Regions from separate parts of the Homo sapiens genome. Here region 1 is linked to region 2. Evidence: fine-mapped expression QTL. Tissue or cell type: whole blood. Region 2 holds a variant in brackets; the other region holds the start of a gene. All regions are shown on one strand. Distances are from middle to middle.

Region 1 (8,094 bases), 160 kb after region 2:
CTATCTCCTGACAAGGTTAAGAACCACTGTACTTATAAAAACCAAAATTTCTGAAAGACTTGTTATTTATAAATGGTATAGTTTCCTACTTTGGTGAGTTATCAGAATTGCAAGAATACTGTTTTCTGTTCTTTTGTCATTATAACTAAGCAGTATTTCAGCTACACTGTAGACTAAGTGGAATTAATGTTCTGGCCTGGGAAGTAAGCATCCTGGAACGATGTGTTGCATACTGTGTGACGTGTTGCAACTTATAAAAGAAACTTTAGATTGAAACCCAGATGTAAACTGAACAAATTAAGAAAGGAAATGTCAAAATATAAAACCCTCTAAACAGCTCCATTCCTTCAAAAGACCAGGTGCTTTTGATAAGGAAACACAGGACATGGTGGAAGACTAACACAAACTGATACTACAGGAGAGGGGTAAAGCTTGAAGCTTAGAAAAAAAAAATAAACTTTAGTGTTTAGGATATGTGGTCAGTAAGACACATTTTCTGAAAATGTTTCCTTTAAGTGAAACAGACCAGCTTGAATTCTCCAGGAAAGAATTAAGGCTTCAGGAAGGCACAGCATTGCTAGTACATGGAACTCTCAAGTGATGGAGAAATACAAAGAGATAGAAAAATGGATTCGGGAAGGGGTACTGCTTATGCAGAAGACGTTCCATAGCAGGCCTGACTGCTATCCTTTGAAAGTGCAGCTTGTGGCCGATGTCTGAGAACTTAAGATTTTGGGAGAGTTTCCACCACCATTAACTGATAGGAGTGGCTCACCATGCCTAAAATGTACAATCATTACAGTTTATACCAACACCTGCTTTCCTCTGGGAGTCTGGAAACGTTGGTATGTGCCAGGCAGGGGTGGCCTAAGTGAAAAGCCCCCAGTAAAAGCCCTGGGCACTGAGTCTCTAACAAGCTTCGCAGGTTGGCAACATTTCACAAGTGTTGACACAACTAGTTGCTGGAGCAACTGAGCACAGCCAGTGTGACCGCTCGAAGACCCTTGGAGCCTTGCACTTGGTATCCCCAGAACTTCACCCATGTGCCTCTTCCCTTTGCTGACTGTGCTTGATATCTTTTCCCTGTAATAAATCAGCCGAGTCCTCCTAGCAAATTGCTGAACTAAAGATGGCCTTGGGGACCACAGCACATTGCTCACGTTTAATTTTTAAAAACTTAGATTGGTTTATTAGGTTTGTATTACTAAAGGCACCCTATAGAGTCATTTTATATTCAGCCACACATCTCTTATCTCTCACAATTGGTCAGTTTAAAATTCATTTAAGGGGAGAGAGCAGGAGGAAGATGCAAACGAAAAGCTTTTCTTTAAGCATAATATATGAATACAGTATAAGCACATTCACCAGAAAGTGTGGCTAATCAAAGAATGCAAAACACTTAAGCCAAAATAAAATCACTTAAAAGAATCTTTCCCATCTACAATCACTAACAAACCCCAATACTGTATAACAAATGCTTTCCTTAGAATATAAATTTCACTACCCATACTGCCAAAAGTTACATCATTTGTTTCTCTGTGTTCATGTTGAAATGATTTGAGGCTCAGTTAATTGGAGCCTAAGCTTAGAGGTTTCTGGGCAAATACATTATTTCTCTGATTCTCACACTACTCATACTGTAAGACAACCATTCCTCTTAACAGCTTTCTAGAGCAGAGGGGAGAATAGATGAAGCATCCTACCACATTAAACATACAAAAGTCTTAAGGTACATATCATAATTTCGGAAACAGCAAGAAGTAAAACACATATCTTAGAATCCAATACTATAGTAATTAAAGAAGACAATGCTTTGTCTAGAATAGTACAGCCAACACAACCTTGCCCATAAGCCTTAGAGACCACCCCAATAGGAGTAAATATTTCTGTAAAATCACAGAAAAGTTTTTGAAGAGCAATTGTTTTCCATTTGAGTTGACTATAAGCATTAAATGTAAAAAGACTAAAAGATTTACAGTTCATACTTTGGTGACTACCCCACAGATAAACCCTATAAGAAAATCAATGTTGACAACCATACTATAGGCAACAGACAGACAGTCACTATATTTTAAAGGTACCCTAACCTCCTTTTCTATAATATTTGAGGACATGAAGACGTGAGGAAGCTCTTGAAGGAAAGGATTTGTATATCCCCGGAAACAAGCACGGTGTGGTACATAGGAGGTCCTCAAGAAATGTCTGCTGAATTTTTCACATTTTCATCTTTTGTCTGTATACAATTTTGGAGACAAACCACAAAGGCCTTACACAAAACAGTTACGGAAAAAACAGATGGCCTGTGCAGAGGGGATTATTTTTCTGATTGCAGCTGTCACTTCAGGATTCAAGAGTATCGTAAAAGCTAAAAGGCACTTTAGACATCAGTAGTTATTACTAAATCGGGGAGGGAAGTATGAATTTCTACATCCCCTGGGCAGTTTTACAGAATGTAGTTCAGAGTTACCAGCAAGGTTGTTAGCATGCAAATTTCTGGGCCCTCATCAAGCCCACTGGATTGCCACTTCTGATGGCTGAGGCCCATAATCTGCATTAACGTAATACGCTCTCTAGATGAATTTTAGGTCCACTAATGGAGGACAACAGTCAAACGCAGCTCAGTTAAACACACGGCTGTCAGAAATTATATATTGCTTGTAACAAGGTTGCCCAGACTGATCTAAAACATTTCTTTTTGGCTCAGAGATATGTTAATCAATCCAGAGGGAAAACTGGTTCTCCTATTGACCTAAAGGAGTGATCAGCAGTTATCTTTTTAGTCTGATTTTAGAGAGGAAACGGACTATACCTCAATGTATTTTCGTGACCATGAGGTTACAAAGCTTGATGTCCAGGAGGCAAAAACCAGTACCAGCAGAAGAAGCTGAGTAAATCAGGTTCCTCTGCTCAAAGATGAGCCCAGTGACATGAAACCCGAGGCACCAGATTTACAGCTAATGAGTGGCGAAATCAGATCCTCTTCCTCCCAGTCTATCCTTCCTGAAAACAGTGAATAACCTGGTCTCAGTAACCTGTTGGACAACCCAGCTGTCGGCCAATCGTTGCGGAATTATTTGCTGGTAAATGAATTGGAAGCATATGATGTAATGCAGCTGCCCTTCTCCCCACACACCTGAACTTCAGATTTCACAGCTGTAGAGCGTGTCTCTTAGGCCCGACATGACGCCCGGCGGCGCAGCCCACGTGGAAGCCGTGCTCGCACAGGCAGTTCTGCCACCACCGGGCGGAGGCCGGCACCACCCTCCTTGCTAAGCCTCCAAACTTTCCGTGCGCTCGTCACCGGTGTCGCGACCATTAGCAGGCCACGTGTGCGACTCTCTGTAACCAAGGCTTCCGCGACCCTACCCCTAGATCCGGGCCCCACCCACCCTGCCCCAGTCTCCGGGGAGGTGGGACGCCTGGGAGCGCGTCCCAGGTCCCGCAACCACAGCGCCGGCCACCGAGGCTTCTCGCCGACCGACAGGTCTCCCAGACCCGCACCCGAGCCCGGGTGCCTAAAGCAGCAGCGCGCGCCCCGCGGGATCGGGCACTACCCGGCCTGCCCCGGCGCTGGGATGCCCACGAGAGCGCCCCACTCACCCGGCACGGCCTGTTGCTCGCGGCCGCGAGCCCACTGCGTTGCGGCGCAGCGGCTGGAGGCGGGGCAGCGTGGGCACGCTCCGGGCCGTGCTCCAGCCCCCGCCCCGCCCCGCCACGCCGGCCCGCAAGTGGTGGCAGCCCGGAGGCCTGGCTACCCGGCGGTGTTCCGCGTTCACGCCCGGGCGTTTCTTTAGTCCATATGGAAGGAAATAAATGGCCTTTTTTTTCCTCTTTTTTTTTTTTTTTTTTTTTTTTTTTTTTTTTTTATGGTATGTGAGACAAGGTCTCACTCTCGCCCAGGCTGGAGTGCAGTGGTAGCGATCTTGGCTCACTGCAACCTTTACCTCCCGGGCTCAAGCGATCCTCCTGCCTCGGCCTCCCAAAGTGCTGGATTATAGGTGTGAGCCACCCACCCGGCTCTCCTTTTTTTTCTTTTAACTTGGGGCGGCAGGAGAGGATTTGAGAGAGCGTTTTGGTGCAACTCCGTTCCTTTTATGAATAGAGAAGCAGGCCTGAAGAGGAATACCAGCGGTGCAAGTTTAGGGAGTTGGTGGTCCGGGTTCTCCCATGGCTTTCTTATGGGCTGTGTGGCTACACAATGCTGATTTGTACAAGCCGAGTGTCATTTATATCATCTCGCTCCGGGAGAGAGAGTCAATCCTAGTTTTAAAAGATACTGGAAATTCGTTGCGACTATGGCTATAGAAACAGAAGAAATGCAGTTATCTGAGTCCTTTCAGCCTAACACTCCCTGCTTTGGAACATTTGGTTCCAGTCAGGAGGCACAAATGAGGGAGCAGGGAAATCAGTGGCGGGCCTGTGCCTTTCTTTGCTCTGTAGACAGCCAGAGGACCCAGAGGAAGTCGACATTTCGTTCCGTCAAGGTGACTGAGACCAGTGGCTGCTTCTAAGGATCAAGTGGCACATGAACAAATGGGAACAAAGTACACCCTTGTCTAGTATTTGTCTAAAACTAACAATAATAGCAAGTCTTGAATTGAGTTCTTCCTGGCTATAAGGCACCACGCTAGGTGTTTCAAATACTCCTCACTTCATCCTCACTACAACCTTGCAATTACCTCCATTTTACAGTTGAGGAAACTGAGTCAGGAGAGGTTAACTAACTTGCACAAGATCACACAGCTAGGAAGATGCAGAAACAAGATTAGAGCCAAACCAGTCAGTCAACTGTTGGTCTTTTTCACGTTTTACTAATACTCGTATAACTAGTAAGTTTCCTGGCAGGTTCCAGTTGGAAAAACTCGAGGGTAACATCAAATTTAGCCCTTACAGGGTAAAAAAGAATAGTCAACAGCAAAAATCTCTAGTTGATATGATATTGGTAATGTACTTCGCTCTTTATTTTGACTGCAAGACATCTACTCAAGATAATATAGAATAATATTGCTGTTCCCGGGATTCAGATAAAGGTAAATTCTCACACGTCCACCACTTGGAAAAGCAGTACGGTTGTAGAAAAAAGTTATAATGTCAACACAAAATACCATTTTCTCAGCATATAAAATGGCCGCAGGATGTCTAACAGAACAAAAGTACATATGGAAGTCAGCTTTGCAGGGGGAAATCATACATCTTGTGTAGGAGTTCCTCTAATGCAAAATTAGTATATCAGTATGTTCTCTCTGATTTTTTTCATTATAATTCCGATTTCTTAGCATAGCAAGCAAAAAAGTCATGATAGTTCCATTTTCAGACCTAAACAGTGCCCATCATTCCTGTGAAGAAAAGGAGAAGGGGCCAGGTGCGGTAGCTCACGCCTATAATCCCAGGACTTTGGGAGGCTGACGCCGGTGGATCACCCGAGGTCAGGAGTTCAAGACCACCCTGGCCAACATGGTGAAACCCCCGTCTCTAACAAAAATACAAAAAAATTACTCAAGCATGGTGGTGCCTGCCTGTAATCCCAGCTACTCAGGAGGCTGAGGCAGGAGAATTGGTTGAACCAGGGAGGCGGGGTTGCAGTGAGCTGAGATTGCACCACTGCACTCCAGCTTGGGCAACAAGAGCAAAACTCTGTTTCGGAAAAGAAAAAGAAAAAGAGAAGGAAAGTTAGTTTGTGCTTGGGTGACAAGAGCGAAATTCCGTCTAAAGGAAGGAAAGAAGGAAGGGGCGGGGAGGGAGGGAGGAAGGGGGAGGGAGGGAAGGAGGTAGGGGAGGAAGTAAGGGTGTGGTGGGATGGTATGGGAGTGGAGAATGGCTTGCAACCTTGCCTGAGAGGAGGAAGAGGAGGTGAGGAAGTAAGGGTGGCATGGGATGGGAGTGGAGAATGGTCTGCAACCTTGCCTGGGAGGCTTCTAGAATATATGGCCTTCCTACATGTATTGTTTCTGGTATTTTTTTTTTTTTTGGAAAAGTTCTTCCAGAGGACAAGATGCAGACTGCTATCCAGTCCCCACCATAGGTTCATTTAAAAGTCAGTTATTTTGTTTCTGTAATTAATTTTCTCATGAAAACAATGTTGTAGATGGCAGCTCTCAAGATCTGTCCGGAAAAGTCTAGAAGCCTCCAGATTTCTAATCAACAGACTAGCGCTCCTCCTCTGTAACTGAGGAACAAGATGCCAAGGAGACAGGAGAAAGAAGAGAATTCCCTTCATGTCTCGGCCATAAACCCTGAAACAGACTTGTCCATGAGCCTTGTAAAATAAGTTACATTTCTGCAGAGGTGCTTGACGTTCACACCGTTTGGATTGCTTTATTAAAAGACTCTTTTTAGAGCCAAGTTTGTCTTCCTCTTCTGTGGTCTCCTAGGCTCTTCTTCCTGTAGAGCTTTTGGTTTTTAGCCACCTCATTGTGGCTGTGCACCTGTCCAGCCTGGGCATCAGGCTGCAAAAGTGCAACCCTGTCCTACTCCTACCTCCAGTCACAATGATGCTGGGTGCAAAAAAATCTAAAAATGGTGGTGTGTAAATGTACTTTTTATGGTTATTAGATCTAACTCTGGAGGGGCCAGGTATATGAATTTGGAAAACTCTCTTTGCTAACATTCACTTTCCTCATTTATAAAGTAAGATTGCACCAGATGTACTGTGATATCCCTATTGGCACTCAAATTCCATAGGCTTAAGGGTCTGTGCTCCAATTTTCAAAGGGCATTAGAAGAAGAATCAGTCTGATTGGAATTACCTTTCAGTCTATAAACATTGAAGAACTTATAAAATGATTAATATTTGTATTTTTGTTGTAAAGCTTTATTTTATAATGCTACTGTGTCATACGATTCCAGGAAACACACATTGCTTTAAACTATGTGAGTACTGCCCCCTATGTGTTTGTATTCACTTTGGTCCAGAAAATATCTAAACCATGTCTTTCTAGTATATGACTTTAATATTTATACCACTATATTGGGCTAACTTTTTAATATAAGGAAACAGACACATCAAGGTTAAGGAACTTGCTCAAAAATACATCATTTGATAGTCCATTTTTTTCATTTGGGCTGCTATAAGAAAATATCTAAGACTGGGTGGCTTATAAGCAACAAAAATGGACTTCTCACAGTTTTGGAGGCTTGTTCTCTGGTTCACAGAGGACACCTTCTAGCTGCATCCTCACGTGGTAGAAGTGGGAAGGCAATTCTGTGGGTCCTCTTTATAATCCCATTTATAAGGCTTTACCCGCGTGACATAATCTACTCCCAAAGGCCCCACCTTCCAATCACATTGGTGATTCTGTTTCAGTATATGAATCCAGGGTGGGGACAAACATTCAGACCATAGCACCCATACTGCCTATCAAGTAATATTCTTTGGACCTCTGTTTATGTTTCTCCAAAAGTGGTTAATTTCACCTAACTCGGAAAGATGCTGTGAGTTTCAGGTGAGGTGGAGTAAGCAAAAGAGTTTTAAAACTGTAAAATGCTATTGAGTGTGAGAGGCATTACTGTTAAATCCCATATGACATCTTGAACATGATTCCATGGAATGAATTAAATGCAGTTGGGCCTTTTATACATGCATACTTCACTTAATTTACACAATTCATCAAGCAGAGTACCTTCAAATTGATGTCATATCACCATGGGATAATCTTGGTGTCTTAGTACCTTCAGAAAAGTCAAATTTGTTTAACAATGACCCAGGCCGAGGTCTTTCAAGACTATAGTAGTTACGATACAGCTCATAGAACTCAACGTACTTAACTTGATAACAAGCATACCATCACCGTTTGGAATTATATTTTGCATATTTATAAAACTATGATTTAAACTCCTTGGGAGCAAGAAATGTGCTTCTTTAATTCTGAGAACTGCAACAGAGTTCTTCACAGAGTAGTTACTCTGTTTACAAAATTGAATTGGGTAAGCATTCCTATTTTCTTTTCTTGCTTAGAGTCCAATTTCTTTTACAGCCTGTGCCTATAGGAAAGTTGGTGTTAGGCTGCATGACTTTTCTTAAATGATTCTGCAGACCTCCTTTCTCCAGCAACCCAGCACTTGCAGGTGAAAATATGCCTCAGGATTTTCCAATGA
Region 2 (8,112 bases):
AACTTACATATGGCAAAGCTAATAGCTGAAAACCAAAGAAAATATCAAAAACATCCAGAGGGAAGAAAACCTTATTTATAGAGTAAAAGTGATACAAATAAGTTTCTATACAAACTGATATAAAAAAGTTGATTTTTATTAGAAACCCTGCCAAATTCAGTAGTACAGTATTTTTTAAAGTGTTGAAAGAAAAATAAGAAAGTTAATCCAGAATTCTAAGATATGAAACCAAGAAAAAATTCTGCAGGGTGGAGGGAAATTACACCAAAGGAAAAGTCTAATTTTCAAGAAGTAATGAAATGATAAATATATGAGTAAATGTAGAAGGCTTTTTAAAAAGTACCCATAAAATACATGTGAATGTTTAAGTAAAAGAATAACATATTTGTGTGGGGCTAATAATGTATGTAGATATACAAATAACATATGATGACTGTAATAAAAAAGGATGGTGAGGGTGATAAAGGACCCAAACAGTTGTAAAACTTCTACATTTTACAAGAATTGATACAATATTAACTCTAATAGACAGTATAAATTAAAGATGCATATTGTAATCCCTAGAGCAACTATTTAAAAACATGGAAAAGAAATATTAAAAAGCCAATACATTAAAATAGAATTTAAGAAATATTCAATTAATCCACGTAATAAGGAAAGGGGGGACAAAGGAACAAAACACAGAAGGAAGAAACAGTCCTTAATACCATTATATCAATACTTGGAATACATTTAATTGGATTAAATTCTCCAATTAAAGTTAGAAATAAGCAGAATGAATTTTTGAAAAGCATAACTATCTGCTCTCTGCAAGAAATGCATTTAACATATAAAGATGCAGGCATGTTGTAAGTAAATGTATTAAAAAAGATTACGGAAGCATTAAGTATAAGAAGGTTTGAGTGCATATATTAATATAAGATAAAATAGACTTCAAAACAAAAAGAATTAACTGCGATAAAGACATTTTATTATCATTCATCACAGATGTGTGTGCATCCAGTAACAAAGTTTCAGAATACATAAAGCAGAAATTGACAGATAAAGGGAGAAATAAACAATTTCACCATTACAGTAGGAGATCTAAATACCTCTTACTGAGCAATTGGTAAAATAACTAGACAAAAAAAAAAACAAAACAAAAAAAACAGTAGACATAGATGATCTGAATCAGTCAGCCAAATAGACCCAACTCATATGTGTAGAACACTACACCCAACAACTACAACTTCTTTTGAAGTGTAAGACAAACAGTACAATTTTTAAAAATGGAAAACAAACTACATAACAGGAAAAAAATCCACAATATATATATCTGACAAAGAACTTGCATAATATATAAAGACCTATTATATATCAATAGAAAGAAGCCAACAACAACAAAATATGAGCAAACCACTTGAGTAGATACCTCACAAAAGAATATGGTCAATCAATACAGGAAAAGATGCTTAACATCATTAATCATGAGGGAGATGCTAATAAAAACTATGATTTATTACCATTATACACCTACTAAAATAGCTTCAGTTTTTAAAACTGGTAATACCTTGTGTTGGCAAGAACATGAAATCATTGGAATTCTCACACAATGCTGGTGGAGAATGCAAAATGGTATGTGGCGCCAACCAAGTTACGCATCTTTGTAGGGAGGTGATGATAGAGCAGCAGGAGCAGCCTAGCACCAGTTGTTGGAACACCTGTAGGATGATGAAGGCATGTACATTGCCTGGCATGGGATGTTGGAGCTTGAGAAGGGTAAAGAGGGCTTCTACACCCGACGTCCAGGGAGGTGGTGGTGGTAACAGATGATTAGTAACATTTATCAAGGAAAGAATCTAATAATATATTGACAATAATGGGAGTCATCCTCCAGAGTGTAGGAGAAGAGAGTTACAGGTGTGGAAAGAAAACTAGAAGGATTGTTGTATTACAGTTGGAGGTATCGGTATGAGCACATGAATTTCAATGGGTAGAAAGAGAGAGATATAGATACAGAGATAAAGATGCTGTTTGTGTGTATATACCTGTGTATGTGCCTAAGAGCAGTGACTCCAACAGCAATGAGAACACCTGGCACCCACATGTAGGTATCTTGGTTATATTCTCCACTAAAAAGAAGTAGGGCTCTTTGGGAAAATGGCTACTTCCATAATGGAGCAGAAAAAATACAGAATGAGCCTGGAACATTTTGTTTTTCCAGAAAGTTAAAAAATGCTCAAATAATTATGTGGACATAGCAAAAGGACACAAAGACAGTTTGAAGGGGCATTAACTGGCTACACCTGCGACATTTTGAACATCAAAATGAATAAAGATAGTAATGGACTATATAACTCATTGAATGAAATATGAATTTATATATCTATATGATACAAATAAGTGAATAAATGACTAATGGGGAGATAACATTAGAACACCTACAAATAAATGTAGAATGTTGGAATGAGAAAATCGCCATTTGACAATAATTGTAATAATTTATTCAGTCTAGAAACATCAATGGATGCTAAAAATAATAATGAAATGTTGTCAAGGAATGGGATATTTATATAGCTTCAAATTATTTCTCCACAAAATACTAATTACAGAGAGGAAAAAAAATAGCTAGCATACAATTAAGGGAGCTTGCAGACATCACCTTAATCAAGTGATCCAAGTTATTATCTGTGATGGGACAAATTGAAATCGTGTACCTTAGCTTGGTGTGGTGGCAGACGCCCGTAATCCCAACACTTTGGGAGGTTGAAGCAGGAGGATCACTTGAGCCTAGGAGTTTGAGGCCAGCCTGGGAAACATAGTGAGACCCCATCTCTACAAAGATTCCAAAAATTAGTGAGCTGGGTGGTGCATGCCTATAGTCCCAGCTACTCAGGAGGCTGAGGTGAGAGGATCGCTTGAGCCTGGGAGGTCTAAGGTACAGTGAGCAGAGATCACACCACTGCACTTCAGCCTGTGCAATAGAGTGAGACGCTGTCAGAAAGAAAGAAAAGAAAGAAGGGGAAGGAAGGAAGGAAGGAAGGAAGGGAGTGAGGGAGGGAGGGAGGGAGGGAGGGAAGAGAGGGAGGGAGGGAGGGAAGAAGGAAGATCATGTACCACCTGACACAATGAGAACAGAGCATTATAGAAGGAAAAGGAAGAAGGATGGAAGGAAGGAAGGAGGAAGGAAGGAAAGAAGGAAGGTGGGTGGAAGAAAGAGAGAGAGAAAGAAAAAGAAAAAAAGAAAGGAAAGAAA[CAG/C]AGAAAGAAAAGAAAGAAAGAGAAAGAAAAGAAAGAAAAAGAAAGAAAAAAGAATTAGGTACCACCTGACACAATGATAACATAGCATTACTTTTGGGATATTGCCAAAAATATACAGCCTGAATCCAACCATAAGAAAACACCAGGCATTTCCAAATAAAAAGATCCTGCTTCCACCAAAATGTGGCCTGTAAGAGTAAAAAAATGTCCCAGTCATGAAAGTCCCAGTCATGAAAGACTGAGGAATTTTTACCGAGTAAAGGAGACGAAAGTGACATAACAACTAAATGCGGTATGTGATTCTGGACTGGATCACTTTGCTAAAAAGAACATTAATGAGATAATTGTCAAAACTTAAATGGAGTCTGCAGATAAGGTGGTAGACTATGTCAACATTAGTTTCTTGATTTTGAGAGTGGAATTGCAGTTAGGATTTTAGGAGAATAGTCATGTTTGTAAGAGTTACACATCAAAGTATTCAGGACTTCATTTTGACAACATAATTTCAAATGATTCAGGAAATAAAAAGAAGTTCTTAATACTATTGTGATTTTTCAATAAGTTTGAAATATTTTCAAAATTAAAATATTTAGAAAAAAATTTATATGAAATAACAATGTAGAGAAAATTGAATTTTACATATTGAAGAATTAGAATAAAAGGTAGATGAGTATGTTCAAAAAAGAATGCCTGAAATGGTATCACTCATAAAAATAAACTGCCTGAATAGATTGATAATTGCAACCAATATGGGAAATGTATGTATACTTATTATATAAATTAAGTAATTATTGAAAGTTGTAGCTATATTAGAAAATACAGTACTGCTACCAATTAAAATAAACACTTTAACTCTTAATAATAAAGATGGACCAAGTGCCTTTTGGGATTTCATAATAGTAATGCTTTCAACCTGCCAACTTTTGAGTGAATTCCAGGTAATAGCTATGAGAAAAGCAGTTCATGTAAGAATGCCACACAGCTGTCAGATTGTTTTGATTCTTGTATACACTTGATTTTAGTCCTAAATTAGATACATGGTTATTAGTAAGACTTCTCCAGCTTGATTCACTCGTCTAACCTGTCTCAAGCAATAATTGGCAGCTATAAATTAAATTATGTAGGTCACATTAGGATCAGTGCAGCAGTTTCTCCATCTGCCTATTTCTCATACCTTGTCATTGTCATTTACTTTTTAATTATACAATTATTTTAAAGAAGGTCAAGATAATGCAGCAAAGAGTTCACTTAAAGGTAGTTTCATATTAACATTCCAAAGCCCTTGTATGTTCTTGTATTACACATAGTATTTGATGATTCACAATGTAGTAGCACTCACTCACTGCCATATTTCCTCACCAAATCAGAAGGCAAGCAAAAATTATCTCTTTTTTTGGCCTACTATTGCACTCCTGATCTTTTATACTGCTTTTTGACTAGTGTAATATTCCTAATATAAACGTTTCAATAGATTCAAAATCTGTTAAATAGTGTTTCAACTGGGTTCTGGTTGCAAGTTTTCCATCCATGCTTCTAGAGCTGTGATTTGTGAAATCCACCCAGGACCCCAGGCACAGCCTGCCCAAATCATATGATTCGGCATTTCTTCCTCCCTTTTCCCAGTATAGGAATAACTTCAGAGATATTACGGGTTCAGTTCCTGACCAGCACAATAAAATGAATATAGCAGTAAAGCAAGTCAGATAAACTTTTTGGCTTCCTAGTGCATTCAAAAATTATGTTCATACTATAGTATATTAAGTATGCAATAGCATTATGTCTAAAACCATGATGTACATGTCTTAATTTTAAAAGACTTTATTGCTTAAAAATGTTAATTATTATCTGAGACAGCAGCTAACTCTAATCTTTTTGCTATAATAGTAGAAGGTCTTGCCTTCATGTTGATGGCTGATGACTGGTCAGGGTGGTGGTTGCAAAAGGGTGAGGTGGCTGTGGCAATTTCTTAAAAGAAGACAACGACAAAGTTTGCCACATTGACTGACTCTTCCTTTCACAAAATATTTCCCTGTAGTATGTGATGCTGTTTAACAGCATTTTACCCACAGTAGAACTTCTTTCAAAACTGGCATCAATCCTCTCAAACTGTGCCCCTATTTTAACAACTAAGTTTATGCAATATTTGAAATCCTTTGTTGTCATTTCAACAACGTTCACAGCATCTTCACCAAGAGTGAAGTTGTAGATATATTAGAAAATACAGTACTGCTACCAATTAAAATAAACACTTTAACTCTTAATAATAAAGATGGACCAAGTTCCTTTTAGGATTTCATGATAGTAATACTTTCAACCTAACAACTTTTAGCTATGAGAAAAGCAATTCATATCAGAATGCCACACAGCTGTCAGATTGTTTTGATTCTTGCATACACCTGATTTTAGTCCTAAATTAGATATACGGTTATTAGTAAGTACCTACTTTCTTTGCTCATCAGGAGCAACTCTTCATCCATTCAAGTTTTCTGGTGAGACTGTAACCACTTAGTCACGTCTTCAAGGTCTATGTCTAATTCTAGTTCTCTTACTATTTCCAGCACATCTGCAGCTACATCCTCCACTGAAGTCTTGAACCCGTCAATGTCATCCATGAGGATTGGAATCAATCTCTTCCAAACTCCTGTTAATGTTGATATTTTGGCCTTCTCACAGGAATCATGAATTTTTTTTTTGTTTGTTTGTTTGTTTGTTTGTTTTTTGTTTTTTCGAGACGGAGTCTCGCTCTGTTGCCAGGCTGGAGTGCAGTGGCATGATCTCAGCTCACTGCAACCTCCACCTCCTGGGTTCAAGTGATTCTCCTGCCTCAGTCTCCTGAGTAGCTGGGACTACAGGCGTGTGCCACCATGCCCAGCTAATATTTGTATTTTTTTTTTTTTTTTTAGTAGAGATCGGGTTTCACCATGTTGGCCAGGATGGTCTCGATCTCCTGACCTCGTGATCCGCCTGCCTCGGCCTCCCAAAGTGATGGTATTACAGGCGTGAGCCACTGTGCCCGGCCTCATGAATGTTCTTAATGGCATCTGGAATCCTTTCCAGAAGATTTTCAATGGACATTGCCCGGATCCCTCAGAAGAATCACTATCTATGGCAGCTCTGGCCTTATACAATGTATTTCTTAAAAAATAAGACTAGAAAGTTGAAGTTACTACTTGATCCATGGGCTGCACAATAGGTGTTGTATTAGCAGGCATGTAAACAACATTCATCTTGTACATCTCCATCAGAGCTCATGAGTGACTAATTCTGAAAGGAATTTTTTTTTTTCCTGAGCAGTAAGTATCAACAATGGGCTTGAAATATTCGGTAAACCATGCTGTAAACAAATGTGTTGTTATCCAGGCTTTGTTGTTCCATTTCTATAGCATAAGCTGAGTAGATTTAACATAATTTTTAAAGGCCCTAATATTTTCGGAATGGTAAATGAGCATTGGCATCCACTTAAAGTCACCAGCTTGATTAGTCCCTGAGAATCAGCCCATCCTTTGAGACTTTGAAGCTGGACATTAACTTCTCCTCTCAGTAACAAAAGTCCTGCATGGCATCTTCTTCCAATATAGGGCTGTTTCATCTACATTAAGAATCTGTTGTTAGTGTAGCCACCTTCATGAATGATCTTTGCTAGATTTTCTGATAACTTGCTGCAGCTTCTACATCAACATTTGCTGCTTCACCTTCCACTATGATGTTACGGAGATGGCTTCTTTCCGTAAACCTCATGAACCAACCTCTACTAGCTTCCAACTTTTCTTTTCCAGCTTATCTCTCTCAGCCATCATAGAATTGAAGAGAGTTAGGGCTTTGCCGGGAATTAGGATTTGGCCTAAGGGGATGTTGTGGCTTCTATCAAGACTATTAAAACTTTTTCCGTATCAGCAATAAGGTTGGTTCACTTTCTTTTCATTTATGTAGTCACTGGAGTAACACTTTTAATTTCCCTCAAGTTTGTCCTTGCATTCACAACATGGCTAACACTGTCTGGCACAGAAGGCCTAGCATTTGCCCTGTTTTAGCTTTTGACGTGTTTTCCTCACTAAGCTTAATCATTTCTAGCTTTTGATTTAAAGTGAGAGATACACAAGTGTTTCTTTTACTTGAAACCTTAGAGGCCATTGCAGGGTTATTAATTGGCCTAATTTCAATATTGTTGTGTCTCAGGGAATAGGAAGGCCCAAGGTGAAAGACCAAGGAGAAGGAGAGAGACAGGGTAACGGTAGGTCCACGGAGTAGTCAGAACACATATATTTATCGATTAGGTCCACTACATTATATGGATGTGGTTTATGGCACCCCAAAACAATTACAACTGTAATATCAAAGACCTCTGTTCCAGATCACCATAACAGATATAATAATGATGAATTATTATAATTATTATAAGTTGAATTATTACTTATTCTCCAAAGAATCTCCAAAATGTGTCACAGAGACAGGAAATCAGCACATGCTGTTGGAAAAATGGGGCTGATAGACTTGCTCAACAAGAGGTTGCCTCAAACTTTCAATTTGTAAAAAGCACACTACCTGCAAAGCACAATAAAGTGCTATGAAAGGAGACATGCCTGTTCATATTTATCACACTGTTTTGTAATCTTATAACTGTTGCTGAGTTGTATGTTTCTTTCTTTGAAACATATAACTTGTTGTTGTTGTTTCTCAATATATATTCCTCCCACAAACTTCCCTAATCATGTTCAAAGCAGCTAACACAAAAGGAATAAATTCAGGGTCAATGATTTAGATTCTACCTGGATCTTTATTTCAGAAGTTTTCTTTTTCTTTTCTTTTTTTTCTTGAAATGTAGAATGACTTATAGACTTTTCTGAAATGTAGAGTGATTAGTAGACTTTTCAGAAA

Evidence for each region. PIP is the estimated chance that this variant, and not a neighbour inherited with it, causes the effect.
Region 1: it holds the start of RIOX2, and the variant in region 2 is fine-mapped to the expression of RIOX2 in whole blood (TOPMed, PIP above 0.99).

The regions. Positions count from the first base shown.
Region 1 is chr3:97,968,781-97,976,874 of GRCh38, forward strand. It overlaps RIOX2 (ribosomal oxygenase 2), which reads right to left and starts at 3,651. Exons shown (of 10, transcript NM_153182.4): 1 at 3,601-3,651. It overlaps LOC124909398 (a long non-coding RNA gene), which reads left to right and starts at 3,873. Exons shown (of 2, transcript XR_007095976.1): 1 at 3,873-5,030; 2 at 6,086-6,342. RefSeq lists an enhancer at 2,866-3,125 and a silencer at 3,396-3,835.
Region 2 is chr3:97,806,668-97,814,779 of GRCh38, forward strand. The region is part of intron 2 of LOC101929298 (a long non-coding RNA gene); the gene reads right to left. Among named protein-coding and RNA genes, the nearest start is that of CRYBG3, 11 kb to the right of the region's middle. The variant CAG/C (reference allele first, on the strand shown) is at 3,236.